Homo sapiens: one gene and its partners. The protein of the gene in region 4 interacts with the protein of the main gene of each other region in a pairwise test. Each region holds a gene or a part of one and is shown on either strand. Other genes may lie near its edges. The genes, in order: MYH3, FER, CLNK and PPP1R7.

Region 1 (5,943 bases), on a different chromosome or scaffold from region 4:
TCACTGCATCTGAAACAAGACTATTCGAGTGATTCAGGAAAAGCGAGTGGTAACAATAGCTATGGGCATCGGAGGCCCAGAAAGGGTCATTCACTTCTCCAGATGGAAGGATTAATCGCTTCCATCCATTTTTTTTTTTTTGAGACAGTCTTACTGTGTTGCCCAGGCTGGAGTGCAGTGGCACGATCTCAGTGCACTGCAACCTCTGCCTCCTGGGTTCAAGAAACTCTCATGCCGGCAGGGCACAGTGGCTCACACCCGTAATCACAGCACTTTGGGATGCCAAGGCAGGCGAATCATTTGAGGTCAGGAGTTTGAGCCTGGCCAACATGGTGAAACCCCGTTTCTACTAAAAATACAAAAAAGTTAGCCAGGCGCGGTGGTGTGTGCCTGTAATCCCAGCTACTCGGGAGGCTGAGGCAGGAGAATCACTTGAACCCAGGCAGCAGAGGTTGCAGTGAGCTGAGATCATGCCACTGCACTCTAGCCTGGATGACAGAGCAAAACTCTGTCTGACTCTCGTGCCTCAGCCTCCTGAGTAGCTGGGATTATAGGCATGCTCCACCATGCCCAGCTAATTTTTTTTAGTAGAGATGGGGTTTCACCATGTTGGCCATGCTGGTCTCGAACTCCTGACCTCAGGTGATCTGGCCCCCTCAGCCTCCCAAAGTGCTGGGATTACAGGTGTGAGCCACTGTGCCTGGCTGGATTAATTGCTTTCAAAAGCAGTACCAAGTGACCTCAGCAGATCAGCCACCCGCTCTGGTTTGCTGTCACACTGATTTTGTACCTTCTGTGCCATCCGGCTCGGCCTGCTCCTCTCGCTGCTTCTGCTTGAACTTCATGTTCCCGTAGTGCATCACGGCTCCCGTCAGCTTGTAGAGCCCAGATTTCTCTTCTGGGGTGAAGCCCAGGATGTCAATGGCGCTCTGGCATGGAAAGGGCAGCACGTCAGTCAGTTGGCCCCAGTGATGGAGGAGGAACACCCACCCCTTCTGTTGGTTCCACTTACGTCTGTAGCCAGCAGCTCCTCTGCATCATCTATGCTGGCCACCAGGATCTCCCCCTGGCTAATGAACGGGTAGTCGTAAGGGTTGGTCGTAATAAGCAGCAGCTCTGAAATGACAAATAGTTCCAGGAGGTTATGCAGATGCAAAGAAAAAACCCACCCAGTGGACTTGAGCTCCTGCACCCTGGGCTGGAACTTTTACCGCTGGATCCTAAATTGAACTTAGAATTAAAAATCTTTTAGACAGTTCCACAATACTCAGGCTGTCATGGAAAATATAGTCCAGGGAAGACTTTTCAGTCTCCCACACAATGGAGATGAAGGACCCTAGAGAGAACCTTTAAATTCCCTTGCCTTGCACGCTAATGGTGCATATCAGTGTCGGCTGGGAGAAGTTAATAGGGAAAACTGGCTGAGTGCGGGTCAGGACGAGAGCCAACCCAGGTGGTTTGGTATAATCATAGCCTTTTCTAAAATCTGTTGAAAAGCAGCAGCCTGTTTCCAAGCTGGAGACCAGAAGGCTGAGCAAATACAGCCAAAGAGCAAAGAAGCAGTGTGCATGGAGACCTCTGTGAGGGGCAGACAAGGGGCAGTGTGCAGTGCCTCCGTGGGCTTGATTATTCTGTTTGCTTTGGCGTCGCATTTGGCCATAGGTTGTTTCTGTGCCAGAACACAAGGGGGCGCCAAAGGACAGTTAGGTGTTCAGTTGCTCAGAAGGTTTTTATAAACCAGAGCTGGTCAGGAGTGGTCTAATCTTGTTGCCCTCCATTTGATTAGGTTTTCAAATTGGCATGTCACTGCCCAGATAGCCACATCCCATTTCTAAAATAAGCTTTTCCTGGCAAAGTGCAGTGGCTCACACCTATAATCCCAGCACTGTGGGAGGCCGAGTCGGGCAAATTGCTTGAGCCCAGGAGTTCAAGACCAACCTGGGCAACATGGTGAAACCTCATCTCTACAAAAAACACAAAAGGTAGCCTGGTGTGGGGGCATGCACCTGTAGTCGCAGCCACTCGGGAGGCTGGGGCTGGAGGATTACTTGAACCCAGAAAGGTCAAGACTACAAGTGAGCTGTGCTTGTGCCACTGCACCCCAGCCTGGGCATCAGAGTGAGACCCTATCTCAAAATAAATAAATAAAATAAAATAAACTTTCCCTGTTGACTGTAGAGTCACTCTACGTAGATACAACTCTCCTTGGTCTAGTGATCAGAGTCAAACTACCTAAAAGACCAGCCCCACTGGTGACTTCCTCACCTATGAGCTCAGGCTTCTTGTTAGAAAGAATCTGGTAGAAGATGTGGTAGCTTCTTTCAGCCTTCAGCTGGAAAGTGACTCTTGATTTTTCCAGAAGATCTGGAACACAAACACAGGACTCTCTTTCAAACTGTTCCCAGTTAACTCTGAGACGCCATCGAATCCCCATGGATCTACTTACAAGTTTCAATATCTGCAGAGGCCAGCTTCCCAGTGGTTCCAAAATGGATTCGGATGAACTTGCCCTGTATGGGGCGGGATTCAGGGGGAGACCAGATTCTACCATGGCCCAATAGTTCCTATTCATCTTATGGGTAATTTGAGTAGGAGCCTAGTCCCCCTAAAATTTTTGTTTTGTTTTGTTTTGTTTTGTTATGTTTTTGAGACGGAGTCTCGCTCTGTCACCAGGCTGGAGTGCAGTGGCGTGATCTCGGCTCACTGCAACCTCTGCCTCCCGGGTTCAAGTGATTCTCCTGCCTCAGCCTCCTGAGTAGCTGGGACTACAATCACGTGCCACCACACCTGGCTAATTTCTGTATTTTTAATAGAGACGGGGTTTCACCATGTTGGCCAGGATGGTCTCGATCTCTTGACCTCGTGATCCGCCCGCCTCGGCCTCCCAAAGTGCTGGGATTACAGGCGTGAGCCACCGTGCCCAGCACCCCCTACAGTTTGAAATTAGATATGTCCTTCCTCTTCTCCCTTCTTCTTCTTCCAGTTTGGGGTTTTCCTTATTTCCTTTTATTTATCCCTTTTATTCTATGCTCATCCCCCACTTCAACGTATCTAGTCAACAAAGCAACTACAGTGATTGTTTCAAGGTGTAAATCAAACCATATCACTCCCTGGCTTATAGAATCCCTCAGTAGCTTCCTGTTACACTTCAAAAGGAATCCAAACTCCTTCTCATGGCCTGTGGCTCCCACATGACCAGGTCTCTCTCTCTTCCACCTCATCTCATGGAACTGGCCCCCCTGCCCTCCTCCCTACAACCACACAGACCCTCTGTAGGTGCCCTGACTGCACCAGGCCCTCCCCCATGTCAGGGACTGCCCTGGCCCTTCCTTCGTTCCCCCTCCTTCCTGTCATTTCAAGTTGGGCTCTTTCTCATACTGCGGCTCTCAGCTCCCGTGCCAGCCCCACAGAGAGGTCTTCCCTGCCCACCCTGCCTAAAGCAAGCCTGGCCCCCAGTTCCTCTCTTACACACGCTGTTCATTGAACTTGGTCTGAATTTATCTTTATCTGAAATGGTCTTGTTGGGTTGTTTTGTTTTTCATCATCTGTTGCCTCTGGTCTCTACACTCTTTGAGGACAGGGCTCTTGCCTATTTTGTGAGGCACAAAGCAAATTCCATCTTAACCAAACTCAGACTCACAAAACGGGAGGAGTTGTCATTCCTCACAGTCTTGGCGTTCCCAAAGGCCTCCAGCAGGGGATTGGCACTGATGATTTGATCTTCCAGAGTCCCCTAATGCAAGAAATTGAGGGAAGAAGAGGAAACATTTTTTTTTGAGATGGAGTTACACTCTTGTTGCCCAGGCTGCAGTGCAATGGCACGATCTTGGCTTACTGCAACCTCCACCTCCCGGGTTCATGTGATTCTCCTGCCTCAGCCTCCCGAGTACCTGGGACTACAGGCATGCACTACCATGCCCGGCTAATTTTGTATTTTTAGTAGAGATGGGGTTTCTCCATATTGGTCAGGTTGGTCTCGAACTCCTAACCTCAGGTGATCCACCCGCCTCGGCCTCCCAAAGTGCTGGGATTACAGGCGTGAGCCACCGAGCCCAGCCTGAGGAAACATGTTTTTAAGCCACAGAATGACAGTAAAAAATGCTCACCCACTCTGTGACTCTGGCTTGCCCTGATAAAGCCCCACCCTCCTTGACTTTCCAATCCTAGGACCAACCAAATCAGCAGCATGTCTTACTCAAAACACTTTTGCCATTTTGTTATATTTGGCACTACAGTTGGGGATCTCTTGACTGAGCATTCCTTTAACACTTCAATCCCTTGATTCTCCAGTCAGTTGTCCGTATTCATTTCATGCTGCTGTAATACATTTGTTTCAAAAGCCCAGGATATGCTGTGAGTCACTCACATTGGTATATGTGATTCTTCCACAAAAGAACAAGCTCTCTGAGCCGTCTGCAGATTGACCTCTGAAGTTTAGCCCTAGAGCCTTGTCTTCTAAGAAATCCCGGGATCTAGTCCTACAAGACCAACTTGACACTGCGTTGTCTAAGGTGACTGGCTGTCCTTCAAGATAGTAAATCCTAGCCTGTTCTCCATTCTCTGAAGAGGGGGGAATGTGAGGACATTTGGCCCCCTCATTCTGAGGTTAAGACCACAGTTAAAAGTGGAAGCAAAGCAAGCCTTCCTCTCCCATCTATACCTTCATTTTGGAGTCCTTCTTCTTGGCCAGGTCCCCAGTAGCTGCAATTGTTGCAAAGTACTGGATGACCCGTTTGGTGTTCACAGTCTTTCCTGCCCCGGATTCTCCGCTGTACAGAGTGATCAAAAGAGAGAGAAAGAAACAAGTCTGTTAGTATAAACAGGCTTTTCAGGATGTCATACTGAGGCCTGGGCATGGTCTGAGCCATCTCTGACACACACTCACCACACTAATGTGACAGACCACTTGAGAAGGCAGACGCCCAGGGCACAGGTGCCACAGGCACTTGCTCAGCTGACCCAAGGATGGGTAATTCCATTTTTCTGAGGCCTTATGCAGACCTTCCTCCCCATCCCCAAATCGATCTTTTTATTTTTTATTTATTTATTTTTCTCTTTTATTTTTTATTTTTTGAGACAGAATCTCACTCTGCTGCCCAGGCTGGAGTGCAGTGGCGCGATCTCGGCTCACTGCAAGCTCCGGCTCCTGGGTTCACGCCATTCTCCTGCCTCAGCCTCCTGAGTAGCTGTGACTACAGGTGCCCGCCACCACACCCAGCTAATTTTTTTGTATTTTTTTTAGTAGAGGCAGGGTTTCACCGTGTTAGCCAGGATGGTCTCGATCTCCTGGACCTCGTGATCCGCCCATCTCAGCCTACCAAAGTGCTGGGATTACAGGTGTCAGCCACCGCGCCCAGCCTGATCTTTTTATTATAGACTCTGCTCCAAACACTTTCTAATGAACAGAATAGAGCCAGTGGCACAGCTATGAAACCACTCTATGCCATGGATACTTACGTGATCAGAATGGACTGGTTTTCACGATCTGCCAGAGGAAAAAATAAAATAGAGTTGATGGCAATAGAAAAAGAGCTTCCCGATTCTACCCAACTCTCAAGTAGCCAGAGTTAAATTGCACAATTCCTCTTCCTTTACATTTTTTGTTTAGCCTTTAGGTGGGAATCTGAAGAGCCTCCATCTGCTTTTTATTTTATTTTATTTTTAATTGACAAACAATATTTGTATATATTTGTAGGGTACAACATGATGATTTGATATATGTTTATATGGCAGAATGATTAAATCAAGCTAATTAACAAATCCGTCACCTCACATACTTATTTTTTTGTGGAGAAAACATTTAAAATATACTATTTTAGGGATTTTGAAATATACAATGCATTATTACTTATCGGAGTCACCATTCTATGGGACAGATCACCAGCACCGATTTCTCCTTTCCAGCTGTATCCTTTGGTCAATATCGAAAGCCTCCTTCTTGAG
Region 2 (5,943 bases), on a different chromosome or scaffold from region 4:
ACCCATTTGTTATCAAAACTGAACACTGCAGCCAGCCACTGTGGCTCATGCCTGTAATCCCAGCACTTTGGGAGGCCAAGGCGGGTGGATCACCTGAGGTCAGGAGTTTGTGACAAGCCTGACTAACATGGTGAAACCCCATCTCTACTAAATACAAAAAAATTAGCCGGGCGTGGTGGTGCATGCCTGTAATCCCAGCTACTCGGGAGGCTGAGGCAGGAGAATTGCTTGAACCCGGGAGGTGGAGGTTGCGGTGAGCCGAGATTGTGCCATTGCACTTCAGCCTGGGCAACAAGAGTGGAATTCTGTCTCAAAAAACAACAACAAAAAAACCCTGAACACTGCTAGAAGAGTCAAATGCACTTTTCTTTGTAGAATGTGAAATTAACAAGGGAGCCCCATCAATCCACGGAAGCTTGGGAAAGTCTCCCAAGCTGAAGACATCCAGAGAAAGGACACATACTACAGAAGTGTTCAACTCCAAGGAGAAAACATCCAAGAAACAGAAGCATACAGAAAAGCATTACAGCGACCAAGGACTAAACCTTGTGACAACGCAGCAAGCTTTGTGATTAAGCCAGAAATGCTCTTTTATTCTGCAAACTATAGGATACAAGGGGCAAGAATAAGAACCTTGCCTGTATACAAATAATGTAATGCAAAGTTGTCTAGTCTTCATTTCAGAAGCAAAAAAATTAATAGCTTTAATGACTCGAGTCCTCCTTACCGGATTGTACGGGTCTGAAGGGATCACTTAAACTTTTCCATTAAATTTGACTGCATTTTATGGAGGTGGTTATATCCTAGATTCACAAAGGTTTCAGGAAATACCACTTGCAAATATCAAAGGTCTACTAAGTCTTCACTTGGAACTGTATATTATACGTGGTACTTCCACATAGGATGAGTGATTTAAAATTAAGCTCTATTCATGGTAATGCAAAGATACTTTTCTGACTGAGCCAATGTAAAGAGCATTTTTACATTCTAAGTGCCTAGAAAATAAAAATTCTAGTACTGTTTCCACTTCTCTTAAAACCATGAGTCCCAATATAGAAATAGCCTTTTTGCAAGCAAAATGATTTACACTAGAAAACTAATTTCAATTTTTGTACAACAATTAGTGTTATTCCAGTCACAATACAGACTGAGGTACTGTTACCTAAATATTTTTACATGTTCATTAAGTTATTCTAACTTTTAAATATAGGTCTCTATTAATGACATAAAATTAGTGTAATAATATTTTCTTATGTAGCATTATAAGAATGATAAGAAAAACTAAAGGGGCATTCACTTCAGGAAAATGTGGAAATAACTTGGGTCCCTTACAGAATTGTAAGGTATGTCTTCAGTACTTGTTACTAACAATACTTACACACTATTTTTTTTTTTTTTTTTTTTTTTTGAGACAGGGACTCACTCTGTTGCCCAGGCCGAAGCACAGTGCTGCAATCATAGCTCAATGCAGTATTGAACTCCTGGGCTCAAGGAATCCTCCTGCCTTAGCCACCTTAGTAGTAGTACAAGCACATGCCATCATATCGGGCTAATTTTTTAACTTTTTTGTAGAGTGCCGTCTCGTTATGTTACCCAGGCTGCTCTCAAACTTCTAGGCTCAAGTGATCCTCTCGTTTCAGCCTCCCAAAATACTGTGATTACAGGCATGAGCCACTGCACCCAGCCCACATTTTTTAATGACTCACTTTCTCCAATAAATCAGAGTAGATTCAAGTTTATACCCATAATGATGTCACTCTCAATCATCTGCATTCTAATATGCTTTCTTGAATAGGAGAGAGACTGAATTAGAGCTCGCATGCTAGAAAACTGCACAGTGGAATATGTCATACATGTAAATATCTTGTACCTGGACGGGAAAAAATATAAGAAAACTGACTTGGATCACAAAAATCTGTTTTACTGCTGGATGAGACCATATGGACTCTAGTTCAACTGCTAAGTCAGTTCAGTGCTTGCTTCTCTACACAGAATAACCATAGGCTGGTCTGCCCATTTAAACTGTATGTTCTTTAAGAATTAGAACCCTGTATTTACAGAACACACAATCTGAAACAGGGATATCTGTAAAATACTGCTCCTTAAAAAATAATCATACGTTTCAGTAGGAGGTGGAAAAGACACAACTAATATACAAATAAGGGTATTATTAAATTTAAAAATGAAGTTTAAATTTTAAACAGATTGAGAAAATGTGTTTGCGGGGGCACTAGTTAGAGATTTAAGACAGTAACGTGTAGCTAATACCTGTGGTTTAAATGAAAGGAATTTAGGGCAACCATCCAAAAACACATGATCATCTAGGCAAAAAGAAAAATAAATCAGGAATCCAGACAAACTGGAGATATTTTGGAGTTAAAAATCATTTAAAGTAAATTTATAATTATCCCTGCTGAGATACAATAAGCTAAGATTTATAAAAAGAACAGCTAATCTGAGATATTTCTAACTATTTATTTGTATAAATGCAAATGTCATTCAACTTAAGTAAATTTATTGTAAATTTAAATTTAAGTAAATTTAATTATATTTTAATTTCTTATGTCTGAAACAAGGACTTTGTGGATGGTATAATAAACACATTAATACAAGGAGAGATAAAATCAATGTTATCACATAAAGAACTGAATACAGAAGCTGAATACTTCCTAAAGTCAGTTTAATACTTCCTAAATCTTACCTACATTGTCTCATTTCTTCTATGTAACAAGCTAGTGAAGCAATTTTACTATCCCTATTGAATAGATGAGAAAATTATGACTTAAAGAGATAAAATAACTTGTCCAAGATCCCACAGAACAGAAACTGGAACTAAAACCCGATTATCTGACTCTAAAATAAATGGCTCCTCTTTTCACTACACTTTGAAACCTAGCAAGGAAAACCTACATAAAATGTCCAGTCTTTTAATACCTACTAAAAAAAGTGACAATATCAAGTTTATAATGAATGGTGATGATGAATAAAAATTAGTAATTGTCTGATATGAATATTTTTAAAATAATTCCAAACATGCATGACATTAAATTTTTAAAGCTGAATTATGTAATATCCTCCAAAAATGAAGAAATCTGAACTATTTCTTGAAAAGAACCAAGAAAACTTTGTTTTACCTAGATACTTTGAATTCCAAAGAAAAAATATGGCCTCATATTTTGTCAGCCATACAGCAGTTTTATATGGTAAACTAAAATATTTATACTTACAGAATAAGAAACAGTAACTGCTTGGGTCTAATTCCTCTGTTCTGACTCTAATCTGTCCTCTATTTATTCTTTTCCATTTTTCCCCCAGATCTAGGAGCCCTCTTCTAATTTAAGGTAACAGCCTCAAGTTCAGGAACTCTTACAAATTTTGATGTGAATGCAGATACACTGAAATGAAAACCATAAAATCTCAATAATTGGTAGAGTGTTACAGAAGAAATCAAAGTTTGTTAGTTTTCAAATCATTATGGTAGAATGATGAGTGACTTCATTTTCTTCTCTATAGTTTTCTGAATTGATTGTAAGGCATTTAACATTTATAATCAAACAAAAATAAGAAAGAAAAGGAGTAAAAAAAGGGAAGGAGGAAGGGAGGGAAGGGAAAATTGGAGCCTTGATTTTAAAAAATCCAATTGTTTCTGAGTTCACTGAATCTACAACTAAAGTTCTAAAACTGTGACCTAATTGTTTCCTTCAGTCTCTCAATAGCATGATAGGTTAACCATACATAAGCATACCAAAGACAAATGAAATTTGGAAAAATAGTAATAAAGCAATCCAGAGATCTATAAATTCTGAGACATAGCCCTTAATATTTAAGAAATTACTATATGAACGAGGTAAGTATGAAAAACAGATTTAGGGTATGCAAAAACTAAAAAGCAAGATTCAAATACTTAAAAAGGTGTACACAAATTTCTCGGGTATAGAAAAATTACAAATATACAAATGTGTGAATTTATACCCATTTCCACTTATTCCTTTACTATAAATTGAAGTTTTATATCAAAATATTCCTCAGAACCATGAGACAACACCCAAGATCGTTGAGTCCTATCGAAATACTGACTTAAATTTCTCTAATTACGTCAGTCTCCATGAAGCAGTTCTACTAAAAAAAGTTCACCTTTGTAAGCTTTTTCCATTACAAAAATACATTCTTATTCCAAATGAACAGACATAAGATTGACCCAATTTATCAAGTTACCAAAATTTTACATAATTGATAGTCCCTTGGACTTCCCTCCAAAAGATGTTTATTTATAAATCAAGTACAAAACTATAATCTATTTACACAGGAGTCCAATTTTGAAGCAAAACGTTTTTTTGTATAACAAGTTCATCAGATTTCCTTTTGTCTGATTACCAAAATGCAGTTTACTTATTTGGGCCTTGATTACAAAGATGATGACTTCCTACCTCACTCACAAGATTGCTTTGAATAGTCTCATGTAATTAAGTTAGTATAGTTTTAGTAAGTACAATTCCCACTCACAAACAAAAATAAGCACCTTATAATTTGGTGGTGTGTATATACATGTATACTACATATACATGTATATACATATGCTGGGCTTTTTGTGGTTTTTTTGTTTGTTTGTTTTTTGTTTTTCTGAGATGGAGTTTCGGTCTTGTTACCTAGGCTGGAGTGCAATGGTGTGATCTCCACTCACCACAACCTCCGCCTCACGGGTTCAAGCGGTTCTCCTGCCTCAGCCTCCCGAGTAGCTGGGATTACAGGCATGCACCACCATGCCCGGCTAATTTTGTATTTTTATTAGAGACCATGTTTCTCCATTTTGGTCAGGCTGGTCTCGAACTCCCGACCTCAGGTGATCCGCCCGCCTCGGCCTCCCAAAGTGCTGGGATTACAGGCATGAGCCACCGCGCCCGGCCACATACGCTGGTTTTTTAAGCTTGATCATTTCAGTTCCTCTATTCCTTAATGTTTACTGTGTAACAGTGGTCTTGAAATCGTTATTGCTAAATATATAGGTGGTGGGTTCAACTCGACTCTTCTGCATTGTTTGAAATTTTTCATAGTAAAATAGTTGAGAAAAAACTGGCAAATTTGAAATGTTCACGGTCCAGAGTTACAGTAACATCTACATCGAAGATGAAATGTAAATGATTTGTCTACCAAAGCTTGAATTATTTCTTCTGAACTAAAGACATCAACCTTTGAAGCAGTGCAGAAGCTGCAACAACTTGACACTACATAGTTTTAGATTATGTATATTTAATGCTGTCAACAATCAATGCAGAAGAGAAACAGATCTTCACTAAAGGTCTTTCAAAGATGAAAACAGAAGTATGCCTATGTACTCTCTTAATATATTCCCAGCATCTTTGGAAGCATAATTCTCTTGGCTCAAAAGTACTAGCAGAAAAGCTTTCCTGGACTACAAAAAGATACACTCTGCTTTCCCGACTGACAAACCTGGAGCTACTCACAAATGTCTTCTTAAGGGCAACACAGGTATATATACCAGGACTACAAATACTGCACTAAAGATTTTGCAATAGTTTTTTTTTTTTATCCTATTCTCATTCCACATATGAATTGAAAAGTATTTTCTAATCTTTAATCACTAAAATAGTTTTGATCTATTCTCTTATTGATGTTCCACTACACTTTTATATATGGTAACCTCATCTGAGAAATTTATTATCTTAACATATCTGGAGAAAAGGAAAATGGAGTACACCTTTACAGCAGTTTATGTCAAAGTGATAGTGAGACAACCATTAATATACGCAACTTCTGAATTAAAAAGGTTAAAAAGCTGCTCTTTTTTTAACCATAAGGCGAAGGAAAAAAATGTAAGGCTACCAGCCGTAACAAATTATTAGATTTTGAATTGCACTACAGTGGATGGCAAAATCGCAAACGTACAAAGTGCCCACCTCATAGTACAATCCTCAATTTGTTTAA
Region 3 (6,479 bases), on a different chromosome or scaffold from region 4:
GATAAACAGAGGTTCTGAGGAGTTAAATAACTTGTCTAAAACCATATTGCTAGGAAGTAACTGATTTCAAACCCACACTATCCATGTCTCAACGACTGGATGGCGTGGTATAGTGAAAACAGCATGTATCAGAAGTAGGAGTTTGGGATGGGGACTGTGTGGAGGTGTCCTGTGTAAAGAGTCCAGACAGATAAAGCTGATCGGGAGATCCCTAGACTTGCCCATGAGTGAGGACGTCCTGATATATATATATATATAAATTTCTACAGGTAACCATGGGGCAGACTGGCTTTCCAGGTGCCTGCCAAGGCATCAGACCACCCATAGCTCAGCAAATCCAGCTTTTGAAATTACACAGCTCTGACTTAGTGCTCAACAAGCTACTGCCCAATATCAATTTAGTTTCCTGTGTACATTTGTCTCCTGGGAGGGAATATGCCAATCATCTGAACTTATAATTTGAGTACACTTGAACAAAATCACCAAAGATGGATACATAGGTCAAAGTACCAGAGTGAACTGACCTCTTGAGCTCCATCAACTCTGTGTGCCTTGGATACAATTAGCTTTCTGGGTCTTCAAAACTGATGGTGAAATGTGGTCCTTAGGCAGTCCACAAAAATTCAGCCCTCTCAGAGTTTGGGCCTAGGCTATTAGTCAGCCCTTATCTTTATCTTACACGAAATTGAACACAGAACCTACCACTGTTAAAGATTATCATCCAATCACATGGATATTAAATTTTCATGTTGTATCTAGACCTTTTGGCTCATCTTAGTTCAAATGACAAACCACAGTACCATTTAAACACAATAGGATTTTGATTCTCATGCATAAGTGTTTAGGAAGCAGTGTTTCAATTAGTATCACCAATGAAATTTAAAAGAAACAACTAAAATACATATTTTGCTAATGCTTGTGGTGTATCTGGGAGTTCCTTAAATGCTGTTGACTAGTTTGGAAGACAGTGATTGATGCCCTGATCATGAACCTGGGAACATCAGCAGGGTACTCATGGAGCACCATGCCGAGAGCAGGAGCTCGGGGCTCGGGTGGACCTGGGTCTCATTTCTGGCATATCCTCCTATTCATTGCATGAAATGGACAATGCATGGAGCCTGCCTGAACTTCAGAATCCGTTTTGTAAAGTAAGAATTAAGTACACCTACTTAAAAAGTGAGAAATGATGAGCGTTTCTTGTCTATCAGCAACACTTAAATGGTAACCTGTAAGTCATTGCTCTTTGGAAGACATGATTAAAATTAAGCAGAATAATCACAATAATGATTCCCAAATATTCTGCCCATAAGAGTAACAAAAAATAAATAATAAACACAAAAATTGGTCCTATGATAGCTCTATTCCACAATTCTGTTTGTGTGTGTGTATGTGTGTGTGTGTGTGTGTGATTTTTTCGTTATTGCTGATATCTAACCTGATGCTTCTCAGTTTTATTGGTAAAATCGTGAATGTTTGGTTTAATCTGTTAAAAATCATAAATAGAATTTAAATTCAGGTATTTATCTCTCTGGTTAGTAATTTAGCCGCTTTGAACACTTTATGTTTCTTTGTCATGCTAGGAGGGTAGGTACAGCCTAGAAGAACTCTGCAGAACTCAAGTCTTGGCAGATGTTGGCAGTAGCTTATGACAGTGGATATAACTGCTCCATGTACTAGGATTCAGAAAAGGATGCTTCTAGATCTCTGTCTGCTACTCTTCATGTGAAAATTTAGCCAGTTCCTGGCTATCTCTTCTGTGTCAGACACTGTGTGCACATTTGCTCTCACTCTCGAAGCAACACACAAAATGTATTCTTCCTCCCAGTTTCAAATTACACAACTCCAACAACAGCTAACTAAAGATCAGAGAGGTTAAGCTACTTACCTAAAGACGAACAGTAAAGTCACACACTAGATTCATGTCCATTTTTGACAATCTCAAAGCCCTGTTTCTTTCCATTTCACCATGTTGTCCTTCCTCATCTTTTCTAAGCCCCAGTTTCACCTTTTAAATGCTCTAATACGTGCTCTGCCTACTTCATTAAGCTGTTAAGATCATTCAAGAAGAAAATATGTATTCAAAGGCCTACATTACATAGGGCTATACAACTGTGGAATATTACCATTCTCTAATGAGATTATTAAAATACAATATTTGTAAACTTATGTGTATTAATCAATTCTATGTTGATTGTGGTCATGTTTTAAGAATAAAATCAGAACTGATTTGGAGTGAGGAAAGGAAAGTAATGGAGAAAGAAGTCAACACTTACTGAATACTTGCTAAGTGTTAAGAATGCACCATATTTCACGTAATATAAATATTATATTATTGAGGCTAAATAATTGTCAATACAAGTCTTATGAGATCTTACTTTATTAAAAAGGGGGAGGAAATGAGGATCATATATGAAACAACATCCCTGGTCCAAGTGGCAGAGTCAGGATCCTCACCATTTTGATCAGGCGTCAAATCCTACAGTCTTTCTAAGACAGCACCTGACTCATGGCAAAGTGATCGAGAAACAGAATCCCCTGGTGTTCAGGCCAGAGCTGGCCAGATGGTACAGAAGATTATAAGCACTGGCTTTCAAATGGTCTTGCCTATACAGTCATCTGAGAGGGCTTGTTGGGAATAACAAAGAAATACTACCATTTAGATGGTTGGTGTCAGAGACCACCCAGGAGTGAGTTTAGGGATGAGCTCTGTGAAACTGCAAACTAACACTGTTCACCATTCCAATCAGTCAGCCAGGAAAATCAGTTTCCTTCTGAATTCTGTTACTGACATTAGTGACTGAACAACCTTGCACATATTACTTAGAGAACTCAAGTTCTTCACCTGTAAACCAGGGAAAGTAATAGCCAGCTCTCTAGGTCAGCAGGAGCTGAAGGTAAGTAAATGCCAGTTGCCATTCCTACTTCTCTAGGGCATACTGTATCTTAAGCTTCTTAGAGGATTTCTGAAGCGCTGTCATTTCTCTGGTAGGCCTTCAATTAACCAGCTCTACCATCGTCTTCTTGATATTTGAAATGATTATTCCTGGTGGTTTGGGAGGCCCCTGGAAATCCAAAGAACAACACTATTGAGGAGCTGCGCCACAGTATAGACAGAGACAGCCAGAGAAATAGCCATGTAGGTAATAGACAAGTAATACTCATAACAGAGAAGCCAAATGAGTAACACTGGTGTAAAGTAATAAAAACAGTATTGATAAAAAGTTCAGGCATATCGACACCTTTTAAAATCAAAGTATCCATATTTTGATGATAGTTATTTTCTTTTCTGTCTCATTCCAGTTTGTTTGCTTTATCCAATAAAAGCCTGGTAGAGATGACTCCCGGCACTTTTCAAGAGTAAGAATTTAACCCCAACTTTAACCTCACTTTTGAGCTCCTTACTCTTGTGAGTGGAAGGATGTCTGCGTGATTCCAAAGTCTAAGTCTCCTCTACACCAAAGCAGAAAGAAAATCGTATTACTTTAGAAAATGTTAAAAATATATTTCCACAGGGCTCCAGGAGTTAACTTATACTTTGAATGACCTACTTTGAATGGAGGCTTTCTTTCTAGAGGGCTTACTTAATGAAGGTCAGCCAGGAAAGCCAGCCATGGGGCCTGGTCTTTAGATTTCAGTTGCAAACAGTCGGGGAGTCCAAGCTCCAGGAAAAGAAGATTGAAAACATTTAGTCTTTTAATTTTCTGTGGGTAGGTATCCTGATTCTTTCTCCCAAAAGAATGAAAGGATCTTTAACAATTGAGTTAAGGGCTTTCTTCTTGCTCCTTTGATGCTATATATAAGGCCCAGACTTCCACTTTAGAAACACATTTTTACTTGCTGCTCAGGTCTTTCCTGATGATCATTTATGACAAGGAGATGACCATGAGATCCTCACTCAGAAGAACTGGCCTAATGAGTTTACCTGAACAGCGTGGAGAGCACCAAGGGATCTAGGCTGAGGTGTCCGTCTCCTGTGAGGAGGGGCGGCAGTGCAGAGACCTTGGGGCACTGGAAATTAGTAAGGCGGTGGGTTGAATTCTTCTCGATGCTAAGCAGTGCCCTTCAGCAGAAAACCTCCTGATAGGTCCGTTTTAGACTTGGTTTCCTGTGAAATGCAGCCACAGACCTGAGAGGTCTGACCTGAGGGCTGGCAGGACTTCCTCTTCTTAGGCTGGAGTGCAATACGTGAAGCTTTCAGAGGCTGAAATCTTCCAATGCAAAGGGTGTTTTTAAAGACACACGGTGTCCTTATGTGGCACTTCATAGTTACCAGAACACAATAAAAGGAACTGCTGGGCAACACTCAAGCATGGAAGGTGGGTTTTGCGAGTCTCACTTTATATGAATAGTGGACATTAACTATCATCTTTTGGCTTAATTTTGCAATGGCTTCCTGAGACCATCCCAGACACATGGACCAGGTGTTAAGGAAAGAACCTGGGAACTAAAGGAGAAATGCCTGCCTCTTATTCTTGCTGTATTAATTATTAGCTATAGGATCTTGGGCACTTTGAAGTTTATTTCTCAAGTAGTTTGAGTGATAATAATATTTGTATTTTAGAAACTTTTTTAAAAAATGAGGGATAATTGAGGATTATATTTCCTTCATTGAGGAAATGATATTTCCTCAATTGTGATGGAAGGATAATATTTATATTTTAGAAGTATTTCAATAAATAAACAAAATATTGTAAATAAAGGCATGCAGTAATGTTTGGGCACATATCAGTTGCTTAATACATTTTCTTTCGGCCTTAATCTTGGTCCATTTAAGCTGATCTTGCCGAGTGCCTGTTTCCTCTTCTGGAGACTTGACATTCTAGTTTTATATAAATTGATGTTGAATTCCATAACAAACTCCAACATTATTTACAATAAATTCAAAGGTAGAAGTTTATATTTTCTTGGGTAAATAACTCTGGTTTTGACTTAACAGACACCCCAAGGAAAACATGAAAATAAGCACTCTTTGAATGCTAATTGTGAGTCAGTTACATTGCTAAGCAACTTGCAAGCATTATCCTCCTTAATCTTACTAATAACCATGTAAGGAACATATGTAAAATCCCATTTTGTAATTGTGAAAACTGAAGACTAGGGAGACTCGAGTAGTTTAACCACTTTATTAATTAGCTTTTGCTGCATTAGGGGCTTAAAGCAGTAACCACTTTATTTAGTTCATAATTGTGTGTGTCACTTGCTCACTTCTTTTGGTCTGGACCCATATTAATTTTCTGGGGTTTTCATAACAAAGGACTGAGCCCTGAGTGGCTAACAAAACAGAAGGTCAAATTGTATTGTCTCACAGTCTGGCCTCTGGAAGTCTGAGATCAAGGAGTCGGCAAGGTTGGATCCTCCTGAGAGCCATGAGGAGAAGATCTGTTCCAGGCCTTTATCCCCGGCTTGTGGGTGTCTTTGTATCCTTGTTTTTGTGTTTACATGGCATTCTCCCTGTGTCTTTGTCCAAATTTCCCCTTCTTATCAGGAGAGGAGTCACAGTGAATGATGGCTCACCCTAATTACCCAATTTTAACTTGATTACCTCTTTAAAGACCCAGTCTCCATGTCAGAAGGCATTCCAAGGTAGTGGGGGGTTAGGACTTTAACAAATGAATTTTAGCTGGGACGTATTCGACCCATAACAAGACCTGATCATCTGGTCTGTGCTAGTGGGTTGAGAGGCAGTTGGATGATCTAAGATTATCACACTCATGAATCTGTTTGTTGGCAATCATGTCAGCCAGGTGCCTCTGTTCTCCTCTGCATAGCTTCCTGTTATCTAGTGGCCAGCTAGGCCCATGTACACGGTGGGTTTGGGGCACTAAGGGCAGTGGGAGAGGGGAAACTCCAGCCTCCAGCCTTTTCCAGGCCTCTGCTTGCATCCTAGATGCCATGGTCCCATTGGCCAAAGCAAGTCACATGGCCAAGTTCAGAGTAAATGTGGGAGAAGACTATTCAAGGGGTGAATGAAGAAAAGTGAATTATTGTGGTCTTCATTGGCAAATAATCTAAAAATGCATGTTCACATCCAATTGGTGGCTAGACTGCAATAAGAACCCAAGTCTAATGATATGAATATTTCTGCTTTTTACTCATGAAGAATTGAAGACAATTTGGTTTAATGAGAAAGCTGATAATAGTGTAGGTGATATTTAAAGCTTTTTTTCTTGGAATATCATTCATTAATTTATTATCTATTGAATATATACCATGCATCAGCAGCTCTATTAGGTGCTGAAAAATACAATTAGATAAGAGATATACCTACTCCTTTGATGGAGCTTACAGCCTAGAAGAGGTGAAAATAAATGAATGGACTTCAGATATATATAAAACTACAATTTGTGGTAAATGCAATGAATAGTGCCTGATCAGACATGTATTGATTTAACAAATAGATATTTACATCCTCTACCTACTACTATCAGCCACTGGGCAAGCTGTGGGGATATAGAGGTGAAAAAAAAAAAAAACTTGTC
Region 4 (5,943 bases):
GGCTAGATTGATTGTCCCTGTTCACCAGCCCATCATCCCCAGTACACCAAAGTCATTTTCTTACATGCAGAGCCACTGTCCCATGTTCCAGACCCTCTCTGCTGCCCTCAGGCTTCACTTTGGCCAACCTTCGTTAGCTAAGCCTTTGCTAACCTCACACCACTCCTCCTCTTACTGGGGTTTTTGTGCCAGATTGTCATGCAGTAGAACTTTCTCTCCCTGAGCCTGGACCACCAAGTGACCTGTGCCTGGTGGTGACTAATTTGTTATATATCTACTGCATGTCATGCACGTGCTAACTGCTCTTGTGCCTTTTCTAATTTAACCGTGACAGCAACTTGCTGAGGCATAGGTGCTATACTAGCTCCCTTCCACAGACTAGGAGATTGAGGCTTTCAAATGGAAACGATTTGCCAAAGCTGCATCTCTAGCAGCAAGATGCAAACTCAGGAAGAGCATTCCAGAAATACTTTTGGACTCAAAAGATCAGATTTGGATTTTAGAATTAGATCAGACTCTCTGGCAGGGGAGAATAGGTTAAGCAGGGCAAGACAAGTCACAGAGACGAGTTAGGAGGCAGGGCAGGAGCCCAGGCTGCAGCTAATAAGTAAGTGAGCCACCGTCATTGCGGGGGTAGGGAAGAAGAGATGGATTTGGAGGTTTTGGAGGTGGGTTTTATAAGGACTTGTTTTCTACAGCAATCCTTTCTTGGGTTTTACTTTGCTAGGCTAAGCGGGAAGTACAAAGATGAAGTTGAACTTTTTCCCTCAAAGAGCACATCTCTTTGTAGATAAACCATAGTCAGGAAAGAGTATTTTCAGTATGGTTGATAATTCCAAGTAATGTGTTAGTGCCTCATGTTTTCCAGACAGACTTCCAAAAGAGGTCATGAGTAAAGTTATAAAAAAGAAAAATGATTTGACAACCTTACCAAAGAATTTTTACCTGACACATTGAATTGCCTTATTCTTTAATTCAAAAAATATTTATGAACCTTTAAAAGCCTTAAGTTGCTAACACTCTGTCCAGTGTCCAGTGTGAAAGCTCATTTCACACCAATGAGCTTTCTGTGGGCGGTCAGCACTATTGGCTGTATTCTCCTTTTCCTTAGTGATCCTCCCTGCCCACAGTCTGATTTGAGTTAGTCTTGATTTCTTTCAGAACGTGGGCCTGTGAACTTGGCTGGTTTTCTTAGCCAGATAAATAGTGGAGCATGGATGGAGGTATGTGGCAGAAGGGTCACAGTGGTGATCCCCCAGCCCAAAAGTGAAAGGCACTCAGGAGGTGCTTCACTACCGGGTTCCATTAGTGGATTTAATCACAGGTGATCCAAGGCTTTCAGAACACTGGGCAATTCTTCACAAGCTCCTTGAGGGCAGAAGTAGTGTGTTCCTCACCTAAGTATCCATGTGGGCTCCACACTCTGCTCCCCATTCTCCCCGCGGCCATATGCCTCAAATGGTGCTGGGACATGGGAGACACTCAGATGTTCGTTGAACTGGATTCAACAAACATGTTTAAATGAAATCCTTTTGACTTACAACCGGGTGTTTATTATATGTTCCTCAAAGTCCCATAAAGTGGATGTGAATTCTCATTGACATGTGTGGGTTCAGTTGACAGGCGGGTCGAGTCTGAAGAATCCGGCGATGAAGAAGGGAAGAAACACAGCAGTGGCATCGTGGCCGACCTCAGTGAACAGAGCCTGAAGGATGGGGAGGAGCGGGGGGAGGAGGACCCAGAAGGTACCAGGCCCAGCTCCCTTGGGGACATCTGCTGGTTGGGGGATGTGGGCTGTGCTGCACGTGGTCTGGCCCTGGGTGTGGGTGCTGTGTCGGTCTGGAGAAGGACTGCCGTGCTCCTTAGGGGTCCTCAGTGGCCCAGGGCAGGTGGATATGCTCTTTGAGGTGCTCCTTCAGCAGGCTGACTCATTGATGGCGTTTGCAAAAAGGATGTGGTTTTTTCCAATTCCACTGAAGGCAAATCCTAGCACAAATATGGGTACTAGTATGCCGTCTGAGACAGAACCATGACATTGTTGGCCAGATGCAGTGGCTCATGCCTGTAATCCCAGCACTTTGGAAGGCCAAGGCGGGTGGATCACGAGGTCAGGAGATCAAGCCCATCCTGGCCAACATGGTGAAACCCTGTCTCTACAAAAAATACAAAAATTAGCTGGGCGTGGCAGCGTGTGCCTGTAATCCCAGTTACTCAGGAGGCTGAGGCAGGAGAACCGCTTGAACCCAGGAGGTGGAGGTTGCAGTGAGCCGAGAACACACCACTGCACTCCAGCCTAGGTGACAGAGGGATACTCCTTCTCAAAAAAAAAAAAAAAAAAAAAAAAAGGAAAAAGAAAAGAACCGCAATATTGTTATATTAACCATATGTTTAGGAAATGAGATTCGAAATAAATGTTATGGCTGACTGCTGTGTTTCTATGTCCTACCATAGCAATAGAAACCTTTAATCTCTGAGAGAAATTATTTCTGAGTCTTGCCTTACCATTTTTATAGGCCTGAGGATTGACTTCTAAAGTGCCTAGATGTGGCCGGGCGTAATGGCTTACGCCTGTAATCCTAGCACTTTGGAAGGCCAAGGCGGGTGGATCACTTGAGGTCAGGAGTTCGAGACCAGCCTGGCCAACATGGTGAAACCCTGTCTCTACTAAAAATACAAAAAAAAGAAAAAAAGAAAAATTAGCCAGGCATGGTGGTGTGCACCTGTAGTCCCAGCTACTCAGGAGGCTGAGGCAGGAGAATCGCTTGAACCAGGGAGGCAGAGGTTGCAGTAAGCTGAGATCACACCACTGCACTCCAGCCGGGGTCAGAATGAGACTCCATCTCAAAACAAAAAAGTTTCTGAACAGTATGCATGCATGTATGTACTTTTACCTGCTAAAGAAAGAAAACACATCAAACGGGCTGAGTCTGTCCAAACAGCAGGTTTAAGAAGGATCTATACATTTTGTGTTTTCTAGATTTGTATACAGTGTATGAATAATCATGCATCCCTTATGAAAATAAATTTATGAAGAAACAAACCTAATTTTTAAAATAACATTGTGCTCTCTGTGCCAGCAAAGATGATTGGTAACTATGGCAACCTACTTTTAAGTCACAAGGAGATTACCACAAAAGTACCAGTCACATTCACTTTGGAACTTTGAGGCTGATGTTCTGGAAGTGATGTGGGTGGAATAAAGTGCATGGGAGTGATAGATGGAAGCTTCCGTCATCGCCTGACTTAGTCACCAACAGTGGAGCGGTAGGAGCCCCCGCTATCCTCAGATGGGTGCTGCTGAGACATTGGGTGTTTATGGAGGACTTGAGAGTTGGCAGAGCAAGCCTTGTGTGCTTTCTTTCCCTGGCTCACTAGCACAGGCTAATCATGTTGTCATCATGTTCTGTAAGTACACCAGTGTGGTAATGTGTTATAGATGAGGAAAATGAGACTCTCTGCAGCTTGTCCAAGGGCACACGGCTACAAGGCAGACCAGCTGGCCTGGCCTGGAAAAATCCAAGTTTTTTCTTCGAGATGATTAGCTGATTATGAATTTTCTGGGAATATGCATTTCTAGCCCTTAGAGGAGCCAAGACTTGCTCCTACCTGTATTTATTTAAGTCTTAAATTCAATTAAAACAAATTTAATCATGTCAACTGTTACCTTCTACCTATTTTCCTTAAATTATTTTTAAAATATGATGAATATATAATACACTCAGAAGGGCATTCTAGGCTGGAAACCTTGTTTCAGAGGTTAGCTGACATTTTGAGTGGTGAGCGGCCAGCCCTGCTGGCTGTATTACAAACAAGACCCCTTAAAGCCATGCGACCGTGTGTCCTGAGGAGCCTGGCACAGCCCGTTTCTGCCTGCTGGCCCAGCATAACTGTGCCCTTCTGCTCTCAAAGGGTCCTGGTTTGGACTACATGACCTGGGCGCCCTGCCTTAATTGTAGCACCTCTTCCAGTGCAACTTCCTGAGTTTATGAACGGTGACTTGACACTGTCTTTTGAGGTGATTTGTTATCTATCTCTTGGTTTTGCCCAGTTCCTTTTATTTAATTCTTAGGTTGGTATCCTTTACAGTTGTGGATAAACTATAGTAAACTTTTTTTTTTAACTAACCACAGTTGATGGTTATAGAAAAGGCATAGTGGAAAACAATGAAGTGAATGCAACCATGTGGGATCATGACTTTGTTAAGCTGGTCTGATGTCAGGTGCTCCTCTCAGAGGCCTCCAGGTGAGAGGAGGAGCCAGGCTGGAGGAGCCAGCCCTTGGCATGGGGTCCAGGGCTGTGTGAGCTCACTCCCCTGCAGAAGCAAGTGCACGTTTGCTCTAGGAAGAGCCACAGTAACAGCACTGACAGCCCTGTAAGGTAGTGACAATGACAATCTGTTTACAGGAGAAAGAACATCCTATGCATATAATTCACAGACTCCAGACTGGGAGAAGCACTACAAGACAAACAGCTTGTTTTCCTACAACAGAAAACTGCAAGGGGAAAAAAGAAATTTAAGAAAAATGCTGGGCTGGGTGCAGTGGCTCGTGCCTATAATCCTGGCACTTTGGGAGGCCAAGGTGGGAGGATCACTTGAGGCTAGGAGTTCCAGACCAGCCTGGGCAACATAGCGAGACCCTGATTGTACAAAACATGGTTTTAAAAAATTAGCCAGGCATGGTAGCACACACCCGTAGTCTCAGCTTCCTGGGAGCCTAAGACAAGGATTGCTTGAGCCCACAAGTTCAAGGCTGCAGTGAGCTATGATCACACCACTATACTCCAGCCTGAACAGCAGAGTGAGACCCTGTCTCTTAAAAAAAAATTAATTTAAAAAAGTTTTTTAAAAGAGAAATACCATCTAGTCACAATATACAGCCTTATTTGGATCATAATGCAAGTAAACTAAGGAAAGAAATGTTAAGACAGTTGAGGAAATACGAACACTGACAATCTTTGGTGATATTGAGGAATTACTGTTAATTTTTTTAAGTGTTTTGAGGGGTGAGTGTGCGTGTTTGTGTGTCTGCATGAGTCTGTGTATACCACTGTTGTGCATGCGTGTGTCTGTGTAGTGTGCATACGTGCCTGTGTGTCTTTGTGCATGCGTGTGTGTGTGCATCTGTGTGTGTCTTAGTCCTTTTCAGCACACATGCTGAAGTAGGTTCCAATGAAATGAAATGAGGAAGTGCTTAACAGGGAAGCTGTCGCCTCAGCAGGGAGAGCAGCTCTCTCCCTCCTCCGCACAGAGGATGCCGGCTCCGGGGTAGAGAGTCCTCGTGAAATCCAATGGGCTTCTCTGCTGGAGTGAGTTCACCAGTCTCCCCACTGAGAAGTGTGTTTAAATTATTCAGTGAGCTTCTTTGATCCTATCTGTTGAACTATGTTTTGTTTTGTTTTGCTCTTTGCAGAGGGAAGTGTTTGTAGATGCTGGGCCACCTTCCAAAGCAATAAAAGGCCCATCCTAGAGCATCTGATGTGCCCAGCATGGTCTAGATTCTAATGGCCTGGTTTATTGCCACAAACAAAAAGAGAAAAGCTACATGGGAGGCAGGCTGCTGCCAGTTCTGCAGCTCTGGGAGTCACGGAAAGGCAGTAGTGCTACCCTGCTCACCTGCACTCAGCTACTTCCTCCCCTCCTTCCCACTAACAGGTTCAAAACACATTTCCTTTCTCAGGAAGTTCAAAGGCACAGATGGATGTTTGGTGACCTTTGCCAATATCTGAATTCAGGAAATTCAGAATGCTTAAAACATCACTATTGTTGGAGCAGGGTCTAACCCTGCCACATTCTCCAGGTCCTCAGCAAACCTTCCCATTGGTTCCTCCTCGGGGTTTGAGCTGGCTCTGGGCACCAAACAGCCCCAGACCTCAGCCAGAAGCAGCTCTTCACCAGTGCCTCCTGTTAATGGGGTTCTGAACAAATCTCTTTTTCTTATTTTT

The links.
Region 1: the proteins of PPP1R7 (region 4) and MYH3 interact in a two-hybrid assay, tested with the Homo sapiens proteins (one large-scale study listed by BioGRID and IntAct).
Region 2: the proteins of PPP1R7 (region 4) and FER interact in a two-hybrid assay, tested with the Homo sapiens proteins (one large-scale study listed by BioGRID and IntAct).
Region 3: the proteins of PPP1R7 (region 4) and CLNK interact in a two-hybrid assay, tested with the Homo sapiens proteins (one large-scale study listed by BioGRID and IntAct).

What each region holds. Positions count from the first base shown.
Region 1 is NC_000017.11:10,644,917-10,650,859, forward strand, and holds part of MYH3 (myosin-3), read right to left. Parts: intron 5,486-5,943; coding exon 5,458-5,485; intron 4,770-5,457; coding exon 4,661-4,769; intron 3,734-4,660; coding exon 3,641-3,733; intron 2,511-3,640; coding exon 2,447-2,510; intron 2,365-2,446; coding exon 2,266-2,364; intron 1,117-2,265; coding exon 1,013-1,116; intron 930-1,012; coding exon 791-929; intron 1-790. UniProt on the Homo sapiens protein: Muscle contraction.
Region 2 is NC_000005.10:108,749,872-108,755,814, reverse strand, and holds part of FER (tyrosine-protein kinase Fer), read right to left. Parts: intron 1-5,943. UniProt on the Homo sapiens protein: Tyrosine-protein kinase that acts downstream of cell surface receptors for growth factors and plays a role in the regulation of the actin cytoskeleton, microtubule assembly, lamellipodia formation, cell adhesion, cell migration and chemotaxis.
Region 3 is NC_000004.12:10,680,746-10,687,224, forward strand, and holds the start of CLNK (cytokine-dependent hematopoietic cell linker), read right to left. Parts: upstream 4,024-6,479; 5' UTR 3,923-4,023; intron 1-3,922. UniProt on the Homo sapiens protein: An adapter protein which plays a role in the regulation of immunoreceptor signaling, including PLC-gamma-mediated B-cell antigen receptor (BCR) signaling and FC-epsilon R1-mediated mast cell degranulation.
Region 4 is NC_000002.12:241,151,860-241,157,802, forward strand, and holds part of PPP1R7 (protein phosphatase 1 regulatory subunit 7), read left to right. Parts: intron 1-1,616; coding exon 1,617-1,745; intron 1,746-3,158; exon of another isoform or gene 3,159-3,405; intron 3,406-5,943. UniProt on the Homo sapiens protein: Regulatory subunit of protein phosphatase 1.